Linked DNA regions of Homo sapiens: region 2 is linked to region 1. Evidence: fine-mapped expression QTL. Tissue or cell type: hypothalamus. Region 1 holds a variant in brackets; the other region holds the start of a gene. All regions are shown on one strand. Distances are from middle to middle.

Region 1 (5,827 bases):
CACAACCGACTTTCAGGCAGGCATTTCAGTGTTACTGGTGAGTCACCAGTTGAATTTTAAAGGGGAATGGTTCCCTTGCTAAGGGCCAGTAAGGACACAGTGCCCTCTGCTGGCAAGGGAGAAGCCTACCCATAAGCGTGCGGGCACGGGACCCCCATGATCACATAGGTCACTTCTACTAAGTGGCAGGCCAAGCCACCCCGGGGCACTGGGCTCACCTGGGTGTGGGCAATGACACGGATGACTTGGCAGTACTTCTTCATGCTGCTGAAGTCCTTCTCCAGCTGCTTCTTGCCATCCTCATCCTGCCATTTCTTGCAGTACTTGGTAAAGGCCTTCTTCTTAGATTTATGCCTTCAGGAGCAGAGCAGAGTTGGGGAGGGGACCAGGTGCAGGCCTTCATCACCCCTCCGAGGGGTGAGCGGAAGGCACACTGGCACCGCGTGGGGATGGAGCTCATTGCCGGCTTCTAAGGAGCCTTTTCCACCAGCAAGCGGAGCCTGGATGGAGCTCATCGGGCAGAGCCGAGCGGAGCTGAGCAGAGGTCCACAAGGTTAATTTAAGTTACACGCATTCAAACAAAATTCTTGCTCCGGGACAAACCTTTCTGCCCTGGGGAAGCCCACTCAGTGATGAAGGAAATGGGACATTCCACCCAGGGCCAGAGGCCCTTGCCACCCCTATAGGGGTTTAATTATTCTGCTACCTCTCCTGGTTTCTAGTTGGACTCCTCAACCAACTGGGTCCTCAGCCACCACCCACTAGCCTGGACTCAGAATGAGGGTGTTAGCTTCCGGCTGAAACCAGATGGCTGGCCAAGTCTGATCCCAGGTATTTTTCTGTTCGAGAGGCAAACTAAACCCAAGACAGCAGCTCCCTGCCTGCTACAGAGCTGAGAAACCATGCACACGCTGCTCCCTGCTCTCCAGCTCCCAAGCTCCCAAGCTAGGGACTGCATGGCCTCCTCCCTTACCAATTCTTATAGAAACGCCTCTTGCATTCATCACTGATGTGCTCAGCAAAGACAGTCTTGAAGGTCCGGAGGCCTCGAGGGGTTTCCACGTAGCCCACAATGCCCACAACCACCATGGGTGGTGTCTCTACAATGGTCACAGCCTCCACCACCTCCTTCTTGTTCACCTCTGCAAAAAAAAAGCAGTAGTCAGACTTGGCAGGAGCCCAAGCAAGGGGTGTAATGTTTTCTAGGAAAATGCAAAGTGCCCATTTAGGCCGGAAGGGCAACTGGGCCCCACACCTGCAGTACGGACTCACAGGGCTGTCCTTACTGCCTATCTCTCATTCAAAGCACATTTATGTTATTCAAACAAAAAATATCAGGACCCTAGACAGCCAAATACCTGTCCAGCTTCAATTCTCTTCTACAGAAACCTCTGGAGGCAGACAAGATTGCTATTTATCTGGAAAATTCAGTGCCCTAACAATAGCTCTGAGCTCAGAGATTAGTCAGTATCAACTGCCTAACATTAATGTCTCCATGGCTCAGCAACCAGTGCTGTTAGACATCTCTAAGTAGAACACACACAGGTAAGTGGCCATTATTCAAGCTTTCAGGTGAAAAAAACATGAATGAGGCAGTTCTTATGCCAGCCTCAGCAGCTCCAACCCCCCACACTAGTGTTAACTTCTCTTTGCTAAGGTTCCTGGCAAATTTACTATGCTCTGAAATCAATACCCCACACCGCACCTAAAGCAAACAGTGCTGACCATCTGTAGCCTTGGAATATTAGTTTTCAAGTTAAGCATTCCCATTCTGCTGTCGCAGCAGTTCTGACAACGTGTAACTCCTGCTTAAAAAAAAAAGTCTGCCCTCTGCTAACAGCTTGACTCCATCTCTACAATTTCCCTCCCCCTCCACTCCTATTCCCCCAACTTTTAGGATGTCTGTACATACTGGATCCCGGCCTGTCGACTTCCCGCACGATGTGAGTCATGCCAGCCTTGTATCCCAGGAAGGCTGTGAGGTGGACCGGCTTGGACGGGTCATCCTTAGGGAAGCTCTTCACCTTCCCACGATGCCTGCTGCTGCGCTTCCGAGGCAGGAAGCCGAGGGACCCATGTCTGGGAGCGGAGAACTTTCTGTGAGACTAGGTGGGAAAAAAATCACCGTCAGCACCCAAACCAAAGCAGTGCCCCCTTCTCTAGTTCCCAGCTGCTTAAGTTCCAAATCTCAGCAATACTGAAGAATCCTGACCAGACACCCAGCAAGCCGAATAAAAAGGTCATTATCTCTTCCAGGCTCGCACGTGTCAAGAATGCTTTTGTATTCGACAAAATTTAAGCTGAATCTTATTTCAAATCCTCTCAACCTGTAAGAAAACGACCCATTTTTTTTATCTAACCACACAAAAATACACTAAGTAGTGGCACTAAAAACTGCTTAACAGGCAGCTTTATATGCCAATTAGCAAGGTTTTGACCGCTAAAGAAAGGGACTCCCGGGACAAACGCTGGGTAGCAGCTAGCAATGTTAAGCTATAGGCTGCCTCCGGTGCCCGGACACTAATTACACTGATACACACAGGCCAAAGAACTCCGCAGAGCCAAATCAGAACGTGACAATCAGCACACAGTTTCTGTCCGCCCGTCAATAAGTTCATCATCTGTGGTTTCTGCGAGCTCCAGAGGCCTTCGGAGTGCACCAGCGGCCCCAGATATTCAGGAGGACTCCACAACACTCCCCTCCCCCAAGCTTCTTTACCTCCCAATGAGAACGGCGCCGAGAACCTCCACCCAAGGTCCTTCTACCCAGACAAGCAGGTTATGGGCCCTAATCCCAACTAATGATAGAATTGGTGAGGTCGAAACTTAGAAATGACTCATGGCTTTAAAAACGCCGGGCCTCCAAGCCTGCTCCCACCCTTACGGCCTCTCTCTGGCCGACCTGCAGGCCCAAAGCCAGTCCTCCAAGCGCTCTTCACAAGCCTCTCGACTTTCCAGAAAATAGGCCAGACTGAAGTCCCCGCTGGGTCGCCCGTGCCCCTAAAGCAAACCCCCGGCGCCGGCCAAGACGGGATGGCGGCGATGCGTCGCGGATTCAGCCGTGCCGACGCCGGTGACAATGAAACGGCCGCCATTACAACACATACCATCACGC[C/T]ATCAAATCCCGCCGGTAGAGGCCGGTCGGCCTTACGGGTCCGCTATATAAAGCCAAATCTGGCCCCGCCCCTTCCGGCGTGCGAGCGCGCCCCCGCGGCAGACGACAGGTCGGGGGCACGTACCGAGCGCCATTTCCACGCACGCTCTTCCGCTCCTAGCTTTCGTTCAGAAGTTGACGTCAGCTTCGGAGACAGAAATTACACACTCTACGGCGAGGGGTCGGGTTCAAACTTAGTGAAAAGCCGCGGAGAGGTGGGCTAAGGGTGGGTGAGCCACAAATCTACGGCGTCCGGCAGCAGCCAAATTTGATAATAACGAAGAAAAATGGCTGCGTCGCTTCTCCTCCTGTGATATGCAGCTATCTCTGGAATTAGCGAAGAAAGACTGAAACTCTCGTTTCCTGGCTCCCACGCTGGTTTTGCGGCGACACCAATTTACCTTTAATACCTTTAATCTCGGGCATCCCTCCCTCAAGCCCTATCTCTGCCATTTCTCCCATGCTAATGCAGTGGCCCGCGCTTGATTCTGAGGGTCAGGAGCGTCCCAAGCCTGCGGAACGGCCTCACGACCTCTGGTCATGCCGAGTCCAGCTGCTCAGCCTCCCGGAGCCCCACGCCTTCCAGACCTATGCATCAGCGAGGGCTTTCGCTGATCTCTGCCTAGGCTCCAGGGTGACTCGGATCCTGACCGATTCCCTGCTTCCAGGCTGGTCCCTTACAAATCTCTTTTTTGAGACGGAGTCTCGCTCTGTCGCAGTGGCGCGATCTCAGCTCACTGCAAGCTCCGCCTACCGGTTCCCAGTTCAAGCAGTTCTCCTGCCTCAGCCTCCCGAGTAGCTGGGATTACAGGAATGCGCCACCATGCCTGGCTAATTTTTTTTTTTTTTTTTTTTGTATTTTTAGTGGAGACGGTGTTTCACCATGTTGGCCAGGCTGGTCTTGAACTCCTGATCTCGTGATCCGCCCGCCTCGGCCTCCCAAAGTGCTGGGATTACAGGTGTGAGCCACCGCGCCTGGCCCCCTACAAATCTTTCTAAGAATCAAGTATCTCGTTACTTTCCATGGCCGCCTCGTTGTTTCCTCGGAATTAAGCATCAACTTCAGCGGCCACCAAAGACGCTCCCCTAACCGTCTACTTCAGCCTCATGGCTGCGCCAGAGCACACGCTCTCATATCACCTGCTTCCTCTGTCCCACCCTGTCATCTTCTTTAATTCTGGGCCTGGCCTTTGCTCCCACCGTCGTTTGAAAAGCATTCTCTCGGCCAGGCGCGGTGGCTCACGCCTGTAATCCCAACACTTTGGGAGACCGAGGCGGGCGGATCACCTGAGGTCAGGAGTTCGAAACCAGCCTGGGCAACATGGCGAAACCCCGTCTCTATTAAAAATACAAAAATTAGCGGGGCACGATGGTGTGCGTCTGTAATCCCAGCTACTTGGGAGGCTGAGGCGGGAGAATCGTTTGAACCCGGGAGACGGAGTTTGCAGTGAGCTGAGATTGCGCCAGTGCAATCCAGCTCAAAAAAAAAAAAATTATCTCAATCCTCACACCATTCCCGAAGGACATAAGTGATAGATCTTCAATCCATTATTAGAAATCCTGGGGGCCACATATGTTTCAAAATTGAGCATTTTTTGATTTTTAGAAAGGTAATATGGTGCACATACTGTATATTATGTAATACAGCACTTTTTAAAGAAAAACAATATTCCGTAAGGAAACATGAATATTCACATGGAGTGGGACAAATATAAATAGACTCACATCAGTTCAAGGCTGACTTTGCTGCTCAAAAAATGCATCAGTTTACTTTTTGCTGCCAAATAATTTAAGAAGGTTTTTAAAATTTCAGGATACAGGCCAGGCACGGTGGCTCACACCTGTAATCCCATCACTTATGGGAGGCTGAGGAGGGTGGATCACTGGAGGTCAGGAACTTGAGACCAGCCTGGCCAACACAGTGAAACCCCGTTTCTCCTAAAAATACAAAAATTAGCAGTTGTTGTGCACGCCTGTAGTCCCAGCTACCCCGGAGGCCGAGGGAGGAGAATTGCTTGAATCCGGGAGGCAGAGGTTGCAGTGAGCCGAGATCGTGCCATTGTGCTCCAGCCTGGGTGACCAATCAGGATTCTGTCTCAAAAAAAAAAAAAAAAAAAAAACAAGACCAGGCGTGGTGGCTCATGCCTGTAATCCCAGCACTTTGGGAGGCCAAGGTGGGTGGTTCACCTGAGATCAGGAGTTCGAGACCAGCCTGGCCAACATGGTGAAACCCCGTCTCTACTAAAAATACAAAAATTAGCCAGGGGTGGTGGTGGGCGCCTGTAATCGCAGCTACTTGGGAGGCTGAGGCAAGAGAATTGCTTGAACCTGGGAGATGGAGGTTGCAGTAAGCCAAGATTGCACCATTGCACTCCAGCCTGGGTGAGAAAAGCAAAACTCCATCTCAAAAAAAAAAAAAAAAAAAAATTTCAGGATGCAGACAAAGGATTATAACCTACCCATATTGCCCCCCGCCCTTTTTTTTTTCCGATACGGAGTCTGGCTCTATCGCCCAGGCTGGAGTGCAGTGGCGCACAGTGGCACTATCTCGGCTCACTGCAAGCTCTGCCTCCCGGGTTCATGCCATTCTCCTGCCTCAGCCTCCCAACTATCTGGGACTACAGGCACCCGCCACCAGGCCCGGCTAATTTTTGGTATTTTTAGTAGAGACAG
Region 2 (4,000 bases), 140 kb after region 1:
CTTGGGAATCTGGAAAGGTCAGGAGAACAAAGACCCAAGCTGGGGGAAGATGGAGAGCAAGCAAGTCCCCTGACCCTGGCCAGCTCTGGGCAGGGCAGCTTCCCTGGGGAGTGGGGCGTGTCTTTACTTCTCACTGGGCCTCAAGGGCAGGGGCTGGGGCTTGGGCAGGTCCTCCTCCCCTTTGCCAGGAGCAATGGAAATGGAGGAATGTGATTATTTTGTGCCTGCCTTCGTGCTTGGGGGCCAATGTCAAGGTTTTCTTGATGCTCAGAACGAGTTCAATGGAGAATCCAGACTTGAAACAGCACTTCTTTCATGGGCTGAGGGACGCCCAGAGTTGCTGCTGAAGGCTCAGGGAGGGAGAGAAGGTTCTGGGGAAGGAAAGTGTCTGTGAGGCGGTCCCTTCCAGAGGGGAATGAGTCCCAGGCAGGGAGAGCTGTGGCATGGGGAATTGGGGGAGGGGGACACATTTGAGCAGAAATTGAAGGTTCTTTGGGGGCCGGAGAAGAAGGGGCAGAGAGGGTTGAACAGCCAGGCTGGGGAGAGGAGGAGGGCAACATTTTTGCAGGGCAGAATAGACTGGATTTTGGGGGAGTGACAATTACCTTAAGCACATGTCATGGAGATGATTTATTTTTTTTTTGAGATGGAGTCTTGCTCTGTTGCCCAGGCTGGAGTGTAGTGGCATGATCTCGGCTCACTGCAACCTCCGCCTCCTGGGTTCAAGCAATTCTCCTGCCTCAGCCTCCCGAGTAGCTGGGATTACAGGCGTGTGCCACCACACCCGGCTAATTTTTGTATTTTTAGTAGAGATGGGGTTTCATCATGTTGTCAGGCTGGTCTTGAACTCCTGACCTTCTGATCCACCTGCCTCAACCTCCCAAAGTGCTGGGATTACAGGCATGAGCCACCATGCCCGGCCCATGGAGATGTTATAATGGAATGTGCTTAGAGTGATAGGAACTAGGAATGGATCTTACACTTTCAAATGGTTGGGAAAACATCAAAAAATGTTTCTGGACACGTGAAAATGACACGAAATTCAAATTTTTGTGTCCATAAAGTTTTATTGGAACACCGCCAGGCTCATTCTTTTACGTATTGTCTATGGTTGATTTTATGCTACGATGGCAGAGTTGAGTAGTTGGGACAGAGACCATATGGCTGGCAAAGCCTAAAAGATTTACAATCAATCTCTTAAAGCAAATGGTTTGCCCACCCTTGCTTAGAGAGAGCCTCCAGGAAGAAAAGAGCAGTGAGGGTGACGTTGAAGAAGGGGGCAAGACTAGGTCACCAGGGGCTCCCTGTGCCCCGCCCAGGCACTGAACTTAAGCTGAGGGCAAGTGGGAGCCATTGAAGGTGCAGGCAGGAGAGTGACCTGCTCAAGTGAATGTTGGAGTAGGATCACTCTGCCTCCTCAGCAAGGATGGATGAAGCTGGGCACGGAGGCACCTGGAGCAGGTAGACCAGCCCTAGGCAGCCCGGATGGTTCAGCAAAGGCCTCTGGGACTATTCTGGAGCACATTCGCTGGGATATAGAATAGGTAGCGCATCCCTGCACCTTCGACGATGGCGGCGCAGAGATGTCTGCTGCGTACCCACAATGCCTTGTGCCTCGCACCGCGGGAGGAAGTGGCTGCTCTGTAGGCCCCAGAACGGAACCACTTGAAAGGCGGGAAACACGTGGGGGACGCCTCTGAGCCCTGAGAGGAATGGCCTAGAGCAAGGCCACGAGGAGCCAGGGCACGACACGGTGGGCCCTCGGAGAACCGCTGGTGGGCAAGTGGCAGGAGAGTAGGCTCAAGAGGGTTGGCAGGGCCGACCGGGCCTAGGGTGGCCGGGTGAGGGGGGCGGGGGAGGGGAGGCCCCCCCAGTTACCCCAGGAGTGCGCAGGTGGCTTCGGGCATGTGAGGGACGGAGGGGGTCGGACGGAAGGACACAGGCCGGTGTACAGCGGTCACCCACGCCCCAAGCAGACACACAGACTCTGCAGACACCGTAACAGGCCCGGCACCGTGCACACATCACAGGCCCAGGCCTCTGCACATGGTCACAGATGCCTATGCGAAATCCCGGCCCAGGTTCACGCGGGCACAGGCGCATCCACGCACACACCGCAACACGGATCTGCACGTCCATGCACACACAGGCACAGACTCGGGCACACGGAGTCACACCGACCCGGGCACGCTGCGGAACGCACCCGTCCACGCATACACAGAACGGGACTTGCTGCCCCGCACGCACACCAGGCCCGCACTCCGAACTACCCGCATTCCCCGCACACGCCCCCGCGCAGGCCGCCCCGGGCCGTGGGCCGGCGCACGCACGGTCACAGGAGGGGCGCGCGCACACTCGCACTCACACACACTCGCTCGCACACGCACACACTCGATCCAGCACGCGCGGGCGGCGCGGGGCGGCGGCGGCCGGAGTCTGCGGTGCGAGGCGCCCCCGGCCCGGCGCGGCGGCGGAGCCCGGCTGGCGGGGGAGGGGAGGGGGTTGCGGAGGGGGCGGGGTGGGGGCCGGAGCCGCTTGAGCCGGCGGGAGCGGGCACCCCTGCGCGCCGCGCTCGGCCTCGCCTCCGCGCCCCCCGCGCGCCCGCCGCGGTCCCTCCCCCGCGCCCGTCCGCTCGCCGGGCCCCCGCCGCCGCCCCGGGGTGCAGCCGAGCGGCCGCGCCGGGTCCCCGGGACGGGGTGGAAGTGGGGGTGGGGGGAGGGGATCGGGGCCGGGCCGGGGCCGCGCTGCCTGCGATGCCGGGCGCCCGCCGCAGCCGCTGCCGCCGGAGCCCGGGATGGGGCGAGAGGCTGCGGCGGACGCCAGCATCTCCCCGCCGGGGACCCCGGGGGCCGCGGAGCCGCCGCCGCCGCTGCTGCCGCCGTTGCTGAGACCCAGCGGGCGATGGGTGAGTTGACCCCGGCGTCCTGGGGGGCGCCGCGGCCCCTCTATCCCCGCGCTGCCCGCCCTCCCGCGCTGCGCTTGGCGCCCCCCGCCCGGCTCCGCGGCCCACTCCCCGAGCGTGACCTTAGGGGGCGGGCGCGGGCGCACTGGGGCTGGGGGCCCGGAGGCCGCGGTGGGGGCGGGATGCCGGGGAAGCCGCTCGGCGCGGGCCCCCTCCCCCTACCCGCCGCTCCTCCGAGCTCCCCGGTCCCCGGAGGGCAGAGCCTCAGCGCCCGACCCCCTCCCACGGCCGGGCGGGGGACGTCCCCGAGGCGCGGGGCTCGAGCCGTGCTTTGTGCGCGGCACCCCCCAGCCTCCGGCGCGGCTCCCCCACAACCTCCGGCGCGGCGCGGGGCTGGGGTGGGAGGCCTCCGCGCCCGCCTTCCCCACCCCCGACCCCAGACTGCGGCGGCGGCAGCCGAGGCCCAAGCGCAGTCGGGGGCTGGGCGGGTGCGGGGGCTGCGGCCGTAGCTACCCCTGGGGACCAGGCAGAGGCAAATGTGGAGAGGGCCCCCGGCCATTTACCGGGGTGGGGGCCCCCGGCTCCTTGCATTGCTCTGCCCAGGGCGGGGGAGGGAACCTGGCTGAGGGAGGGCGCTATAAATATCTGCAAATAGTGAGTTCTGGAACCGGGAGTGGGGAGGGGAGTGCGCCTGGGTGTGTGTATGGTGGGGTTCCTGAGCTGGGGTGCAGCAGGAAGGGATGCCGCGCGGCCAGACCTAGTGGTCTGAGGTCGGATGACCCCCAGCCCCGGAAGATGCCCCTGAAGGCCCCTGATGGGGTGTGGGCAGACACACTACCCCAGTGGGATTCCTCCCTGGTTCCCCACTTCATTCCTGGGACACACCAGTCCAGATTCGCCTTGATGGGGGAGTTGTGAGCACTGGCGTGTCGTTTGGGGAGGGGGAGCAGTTATGAAAGATCCAGACATGGAGCCCAGCAGAAGGATGGAGGGGAGAGCCCCCACCCCCAGGAGCTGCAGCTCTGAGGGGGTTTTCAGTCTAAGGAGTGCTAAGGGGAGCCGCTCTGGGTCCTAGGAAGGTTTGAAAGAGGGGTCCCA

The links. PIP is the estimated chance that this variant, and not a neighbour inherited with it, causes the effect.
Region 2: it holds the start of MGAT3, and the variant in region 1 is fine-mapped to the expression of MGAT3 in hypothalamus (GTEx, PIP 0.97).

Annotation. Positions count from the first base shown.
Region 1 is chr22:39,316,488-39,322,314 of GRCh38, forward strand. RPL3 (ribosomal protein L3) reads right to left here and starts at 3,136. Exons shown (of 10, transcript NM_000967.4): 1 at 3,108-3,136; 2 at 1,913-2,105; 3 at 974-1,142; 4 at 219-354. The coding sequence starts at 3,110. It overlaps SNORD43 (small nucleolar RNA, C/D box 43), which reads right to left and starts at 2,626; the gene lies at 2,565-2,626. SNORD139 (small nucleolar RNA, C/D box 139) reads right to left here and starts at 409; the gene lies at 355-409. RefSeq lists enhancers at 346-1,234, 1,052-1,141, 2,125-3,014, 2,881-2,930, 3,015-3,904 and 3 more. The variant C/T (reference allele first, on the strand shown) is at 3,116.
Region 2 is chr22:39,454,653-39,458,652 of GRCh38, forward strand. It overlaps MGAT3 (beta-1,4-mannosyl-glycoprotein 4-beta-N-acetylglucosaminyltransferase), which reads left to right and starts at 2,360. Exons shown (of 2, transcript NM_002409.5): 1 at 2,360-2,905. RefSeq lists silencers at 2,286-2,345, 3,076-3,345, 3,356-3,485 and an enhancer at 3,806-4,000.